Linked DNA regions of Homo sapiens. The protein of the gene in region 1 purifies or fractionates together with the protein of each later gene. This does not show direct contact. Each region holds a gene or a part of one and is shown on either strand. Other genes may lie near its edges.

What was found.
Region 2: the proteins of STMN4 (region 1) and TRAPPC14 purify together in Homo sapiens (affinity purification with mass spectrometry; 2 studies listed by BioGRID and IntAct, with this or other methods). This does not show direct contact.

Annotation. Positions count from the first base shown.
Region 1 is NC_000008.11:27,244,661-27,248,405, reverse strand, and holds part of STMN4 (stathmin-4), read left to right. Parts: intron 1-3,680; exon of another isoform or gene 3,681-3,745. UniProt on the Homo sapiens protein: Exhibits microtubule-destabilizing activity.
Region 2 is NC_000007.14:100,156,860-100,160,604, forward strand, and holds the start of TRAPPC14 (trafficking protein particle complex subunit 14), read right to left. Parts: upstream 1,865-3,745; 5' UTR 1,641-1,864; coding exon 1,230-1,640; intron 1,080-1,229; coding exon 984-1,079; intron 904-983; coding exon 774-903; intron 601-773; coding exon 514-600; intron 356-513; coding exon 235-355; intron 134-234; coding exon 1-133. Other genes in the region: GAL3ST4 (galactose-3-O-sulfotransferase 4), read right to left, coding at 3,069-3,745. UniProt on the Homo sapiens protein: Specific subunit of the TRAPP (transport protein particle) II complex, a highly conserved vesicle tethering complex that functions in late Golgi trafficking as a membrane tether. TRAPP II complex also has GEF activity toward RAB1A.

The DNA.
Region 1 (3,745 bases):
AGTCCACATCCCTGGCACACAGTCAGGTTCACAGTCATTGCAAGGTGATAGGCACTGCAGAACCTCAATTGCATAGTAACCTCATCACAGTCTGGGATGAGGCCACACTCGAATCTTTGCCATCTGAAGATCTAGCAGAGGGCTTGGCACAGAATTATATACTAAATAAATAAATAAATAAATAAATAGAGTCCTCTCTCTACCTGCTCCACTGGATCAATCCCTGCCAGCACAGGGGCTCAGCTGCCCAGGGAGGCCTTGGCTCTTGACCAACCAGTTTGTGTCCATCAGAAGTGCTTGACAGTGACCACCAGGCAGGAGCTGGAGGGCCTGCCATCCTGAGCTCTAGCTCTGGTTCTGGATATTGGCTGAATGACTGCCACATTGACCTTCTGTCTGGGGCTCCTTTGATCTTTGTTGCTGCTGGATGCAATGAATTTCCTGGTCTTCCTTAGGGGCAATAGAAGGGCTAGGATTGGCTCTCACCTAACAGAAAACACATAAGGAACCTCTGAGGGATGGGGATGGAGGTTTGCTTCTGCACTGGGTTTTGCCTTCCATTGCTCTGCTGGCTGACGTCTTGGATAGAATCTCCCATTGAGGATTTGCACTCCTTGCCTCATGCTTCCTATGGCCTCTATTGTCTCTTCATCTTCATCATGCCACCTGAATCCCTGGCACTCTGTGTGCTCTGACCTTGGGCATAACACCTTTACTGTCCTTCTTTGACAGTTCCAGGAGAGGTTTGGTGGCCCTCGCTCCCTTGCAGGCTGTATATTGCTGTGGCATGATAACATGACCATGGCCATTTAACAAACCCCACAAGACAACCTAGCATCACACAACCAGGCCAGGTGCTGGGGAGGGACATGTGACTGGCCCCACTGGGCGCAGATGCCACAGGTTATTAGGGATAAAGTTGGGTTTCCTGCCATGGCTGGCGCCACCCAGTGGCAAAGACTCCTTTCATCTCTGTGCCCTCTGCTTCCCACCTTTTTATCTTCTGTGTCCTTTCTCAGAATGTCCCCTGGGCATATCTTTTGGGTCTTGAGTGCAAAAGAAATGATGTGACTGTTGGCATGAGGATTTATAAGGGCCCTATGGACCCACAGGCACAAGTAAATAGATCATCTTTTTTTTTTTTTTTTTTTGAGACAAAGTCTCACTCTCTCACCCAGGCTGGAGTTCAGTGGCGCGATCTCGGCTCACTGCAACCTTCGCCTGCCAGGCTCAAGTGATTCTCCTACCTCAGCTTCCCTAGTAGCTGAGATTACAGGCATGCGCCACCATGCCGGGCTAATTTTTGTATTTTTAGTAGAGATGGGGTTTCACCATGTTGGCCAGGCTGGTCTCAAACTCCTGACCTCAAAGTGATCTGCCCACCTCAGCCTCCCAAAGTGCTGGGATTACAGCATGAGGCACCACGCCTGGCCACATAGATCATTTTGAGGAATAAATCAGCCCATGTATGAATGCTGGTACCTGAGGTGAAAAAAACCATGGGTTTGAGCCCTGGCTTTGTCACTTCCTGAGGACATTAGTTTCCCCGGGGCTACTGCATCACTTTACCACTAACCGGGAGGCTGGAAGTTCAAAGCTGAGATGTCAGTGGACTGAACTCTGCTGAAGACTCCAGGGGAGGATCTGTCCTTGTCTCTTGCAGGTTCTGGCGGCCCCAAAGGTTCCTTGGCTTGTGGCTGCCTTACTCCCATCTCTGCCTCCGTCTGCACATGGCCTTTTCTCTCAGTCTCTCTTATAAGGACACTTGCCATTGGGTTTAAGGCTTTCTCAGGCAAGCAGGAATGTCTCTTCTTGAGATCCTTCATTAAGCCCTTCTTTCCAAATAAGCTCATATTCACAGGTTGTAGGAGTTAGGATGAGCATGTATGCATGTAGGGGACATTATTTAACCTACTGTACTGAATGGCCTTGAAAAGGCACTTAGCTTCCCTGAGCCTCGATTTCATTCTCTATAAAATGGGGATAGTAATTCCTGCCTTACGAGGCTATTACGAAAATTAAAGTGAGTTTGTCACATAGCAGCTGCTCAGTAAGCACACATTTTTAACACTGAGAGGTCTCCATTGCAAATCCCTTGATCATGACCATGCATACCTCTGCCCACCTCTACAACATCTCGTTTCTTGCCCTGGTTTTCCTTTTCTGGCTTTCTGACCTTCTCTGTGTTCCTAAAACTCCTAGCCCATTTCCTTCCATGTAGAAAGCACTTACCACATATTTTAAAGTTAACTCATATCCCCAGGCCAGGCTGGCTTTCTGTGAGTCCTCAGGACCATAGAGAAAGCATTAGTGAGTATCTAGTTCTTCCACTGGTTACAATGGAAGAGCTTACAAGTCGAGAGACCTGGAGACTAGACCCAGCTCTGCACCCTTAGAGCTGTGTGACCTTAAGCAAGCGTCTGAACTTCTCCAAACCCCAGGTTCTTCATCTGAAAGCAAAGCTGATGATGCCTGTCTTGTCAGCCTAAGCCAGCTTCATGCAAAGTTAGACTAGGATAATGTGGTGGGTGTCGAGTGCCCCCTGAGCACAGGGTCCTATCATCATTTCTAGCTCGGGCTGGAGGCACATTCCATAACTCCAACTGCCTGCTCCTACTCCATCTGCCTTCTTTCTCAGGCATCCCTCTCTGCCTCCCCTCCACCTATTCAGGCTTCCACTTCTGATCCTTTCCCCAGGTAGAAGTCCAAGGCCACTGCCACTCTGGCAAGGGCTTACTAACTCTGCCAGTGACTTGTCAGTCAGCCTGGCCATGAGCAGAGACTGCGGGATGGGGTGTCATGACCAGGGAAGTCGCATGCAGGCACCAGGCCTGCCTCTCTGTTCAGGGACTCACTGGTGCCGTCAGGACCAGCTTAGTTCTGCAGAGAGAAGACCCATTGTGCTGCAATGACAGGGGCCTCTGGCTCCAAAGCACAACAACAAGAACAAGGAGAACAAAGCAGTTTAAGTCCAGCTGGACCTCGGTTCAAATGGGCACTCTAACTTGCTAGCTGCATTGCCCTGAGCAGGCACATAAACCCTCTGAGCCTCAGTTTCCCCATCCGCACATGGCAACAACAGTCCTTACTTGTGGGTCCAGAGGTAATGGCTCTGAAGCAGGCATGTGGCACCTGATAGCTGTCCTGATGCAAAAGACAGGGCAAAGAGACTAACATTTATTCAGTGCTTCCTGTCTGCTGGATGCTATGCATGGGTTTTTCTCATTTAATTTGTACAGCTCTGTGCAGGATTAAGATGGAGAAAGAGACTAGCGAGAGCTGGTAAGAGAGGTGATACTTGTATTTGACCCCACACTGGTCTAGCCCTAAAGCCAGAGCTGAGTTCACTGCCCCATTACCTCCTCCTGCCAGTCTCCAGCCAGCACAGAAAGGCAAGGGGTTTGAAGTGGGTCTCAGAGTCTCTTTGGCTGGCAAGGATGTAGGCAGTGAGCCTGCTGGCTCTCGCCACCCTCCCCTGGCACAGTGACCACAGAGGGTGACCGAGGATCAAATGGTCCTGAGGATGGCCACTCACTGCTGGCTGCTCCTCACTCTCTTTGTAGTAGCCTTCATGGGCTCCCATCACCTCCACCCCTCTGATCCTCCCAGATCTGCTCCTTCCCTGACTCTCCTGTTTTGTCTCCTGCCCCGCCCCCTCCTCTTTCCACTTTCTGATCTAGCGTCAACTAGCTTGACCTGATCCCACGGACACTGAGTGGCGTTCTCACCCCGACCCTTGGCCGTG
Region 2 (3,745 bases), on another chromosome or scaffold:
AGGGGGCTGCTCACCCCCTCTCAGCTGAAACAGGAAGTTGTGTTCCTCCAGGGCATTCAGCGGGCAGGGGAAGCAGCCAGAGGTCCCGGGTAGGCGGCAGAAGGAGCCCATGGAGACTTCCCCAGACTGGTGACTAGCTCAGAAAAGAGGACAAGGCATGGTCTCCCCATGCCAGAGCTCAGCCCCTGAAGCCATCCCCACCACTTCACAGCCTCGCCCCTCCCAGGACCTCACCAGACATTGTCCACCAGCAGCACAGAGCCATCGGGCATGACAGGTAGATAACTGGCGTTGAAGTTGGGGAGGATTCGGATATCCCAGATGGAGATTTCCTCCTGAGAGGAGCTGTTCAGCACTGTGGGAGAGGACCAGCTTGGCTCAGAATAGCTGGACCCCTCAGGCCCCACCTTTACCCAGAAAAAACCGGACCTACCCCACCAGCCTGCCCAGAGGAACTGCATCCAATCAGTTCCCTTGTTGCTCCCGGAGGCTGGAGCCGGCAGCCCTGCTTACCCTTGAGCACGGTCAAGTGTTTTCCAGCCACAGTGAACTGCCGGCATCTCAGAACCGGAGGGGGCAGCAGAGTCAGCAGCGTGCTCACTGCGGGAGGGGGTGGGGGCAAGAAGTGATGGTCTGGAGGCTGACCTCACCTCCAACCCAGAATTCTCACCTTCCTCTTCTCAGAGCCCATTAGCCACTTTCCAGTGTGACCCCTCCCCTCTGTCCCCCAATTCCCAGACTCTAGCCCTTTGCCTCTGCGCTGCCCTGCCCACCTTGGGCCTTGAAAGCGCTCTGCTCGCCCCGGAATGTCTCCCCAGGAGATCGGGTCTGCAGCAATCGCAGGTAGCCTTGATCTCTGACCTCTGGTGCCTCAATCTCCCGCTTCCACACAGTCACTACAATCTGTCAAGAGGAAAGACAGATGGCTGAGCCCGGAAAAGGTGTCTGAATTAGGACAATAGCTCCACTCTTGCTCATCTTACCTTGGCCTTAGGTGTCCCTGGGGGCAGTCTATCCAGTGAAACGGTGAGTGGGAAGATGACCTCATCTGTGGACACAATCGGTTCCTCCACAGGCAGCTGGGGTTGGGAAAGGGGTGAAGAGGTCAGGAGCAAGTCAGAGGCAGCCTGCAGCCTTTCCCTTTAAGACCGGCAGTTCATCTGCCTCCTGCCTCAGGCCCCCAGCAAACCGCCCCTCCGTCCTGTGCCAGGTCCCCCAAAGCTCCTCACCGTGGTCGCTCCCCCTGAGGTAGCAGGGCCCGGGCCGTGGGTGAGAAGGGGGCTGCAGCCTCGGAACAAACCCCCACCCCCAGGATCCCCTCCCCCTGGGGGCTCCGAATCCTGGTCGCCGGCGCCGCCGCCCCCCGGCATCCCGCCTCCGGCGCTGACCGAGGCCAGGGCGGCCAGGGCGGTTGCCAGTTCTGCCCAGGCTCCTCTGGAGCCCAAGCCCGGGCCGCCCCCGGTGCCGGACCCCGCACCGCCCCGGCAGCGCAACACCAGCAGAAAACGGACAGTCTCCCCCAAGTACAGATGGTTGCGCCGGGGCAGCGCCCGGTACCGGCCCGGATCCCCTGCCAGCTCCGCGCGCGGCGGCAGCGGCACGGCCGGGAAGTACATCGAGTAGTCGCACTGGGACTCCATGGGGCGGCGAGGACGGCGCGACTGGGAGCCCGGACCGGAGGCCGACCGCCGGCGGGGCCCGCTAGGGTGGGTCCAGAGGGTCCCGACACCTCCGGCTGCTGCGCCCGGCTGGGGCGGCCGGAGAGACCGGCCCGGTCCCGGCACCGGGGCAACGAACCCGAACCGAGACCCGGCAGCGCCGGAACCGGGGTACTGAGCCGAATGACTGGAGAGAAACAGGAAGCGGAAGGGAGGGGGCGTGGCCGCCGAGGCCCCGGAATCTGCGGGTGCCCGGACCGTGGAGGAGGGGGCGGGGTCCCGCTGCTCTGAGGCTGCGAGAATGCAGGCGGGGGCTGCGGCCAGGCTTCTTGGAAAAGAAATGGAAGACCTCGTCGGCCAGGCGGGTTGGCTCACGCCAGTAATCCCAGCACTGTGGGAGGCCGAGGCGGCAGGATCGCTTGAGGCCAGGAGTTCAAGACCACCCTGGCCAACATAGCAAGAACTCCTCTCTGCAAAAAATTTAAAAATTATCCGGGCGCGGTGGCGCGCGCCTGTATTCCCAGCTACTTAGAAGGCCTAGGCAGGAGGATCCTTTGAGCCCAGGAGTTTGAGGCTGAAGTGAGCTATGATTGGGACACTGGACTGCAGCCTAGGTGACAGAGTGAGATCTTGTCTCGGAAAAAAAAAAAAAAACAACCCTTCCAACCCCACTTCTCCCAGGAAGATTCTCCATCCCTCCCCTTTCCACCCTCCATAAATCAAGTAGAAGTTTCAAATTATTTATTCATTCAACAAACATGTCAGAGAGAAATGAACAGTCTAGTAGCAAATATTTCATAGAGAAATGGACGTATCATTCCAACTCACCACGCCCCAAACTTCCTGTGGCTCACTCCATCTTTTGCCCCTCTAGGGAGCTTCGGTGATGTGGATCTGCCTTGGGGCAGGAAAGGGGAAGGGGAGGTCAGGCCTAGTGGCTCACGCCTGTAATGGCAGCACTTTGGGAGGCAGAGTCATGTGGATCACCTGAGGTGAGGAGTTCAAGACCAGCCTAACCAACATGTTGAATCCCTGTCTCTAAAAATATAAAAATTAGCCGGGTATGGTGGCACGTATCTGTAATCCTAGCTACTCTGGAGGCTGAGGCAGGAGAATCGCTTGAACCTGGGAGGCAGAGGTTGCAGTGAGCCGAGATCATGCCACTGCACTCCAGCCTGGGGGACAGAGCAAGACTCCGTTTCAAAAAAAAAAAAAGTTGGGGGGAAAGAACAAAATGAGTGGAGGGTGGAGGAGGGAAGCACTGCTGGGAGCCCAGCGAAGAGGGGGCTTGCATCGGGACAAAGACTCATCCCTTCTGGGAGATGCAGAAATGGCATCTTGCTGCCCCCCACTCATCACATGTGCCCTTCAAACATGGCTGCTCTTCCACCTAAATCTGTAGTCTGATGTTTATGGGGAGAGTGGCCTTGAAGTCTTGAGGGGCAGTGAGACGGTAGGGGGGAACTGCTTGGCATCCAGCTTGTCCTTGTACTGGAGCTCAGGGGTAGCTAGGCGCTCACATTCCTCTTGGTCTTGGGGGCTCAATCCACTCCGAAGTATATAGCCCAAAACCTTAGCTGACCCAAACTGGAAGGGGCGGAACCGGCGATCAGTGATGTATTTGGGGTCAGAAGCCTCACCCCCTACCAGACAATGTTTCGCTAGGGCCTCTCGGCGAGCCCGGAGCTCGGCCACAGCTGTCTGCAGCCGGCCCTGGCCGTATTTCTCTATCCGTGCCCAGAGACTGCGGTTGAAGTGGACATAGAGAGCCCAGTCCAGGTTGTTCCAGGCTCGGGCCCGTGCAGTCAGCTGCCGGTCCTCCGCAGTCAGTCCACTGTTGCTGACAGTGCTGAGGCCCTGCTTATGTCCAGCCTGGGCATTGTGCATGAAGCCCACCACGTCATCTAGACCCCAGCACAGGGCATCTGCCAGCAGAACCAATGACTCATCGAAGTACTCAGCCACCATGACCAGGTCAAAGACAGAGTCCAGCCATGCCAGACCCCACTGGATGAAGGATGAAGACCCCAAATCGAAAGAGGCAGGGCTTGATATCTGGCTGCGATGATCAGTAACAGTGGAAACAG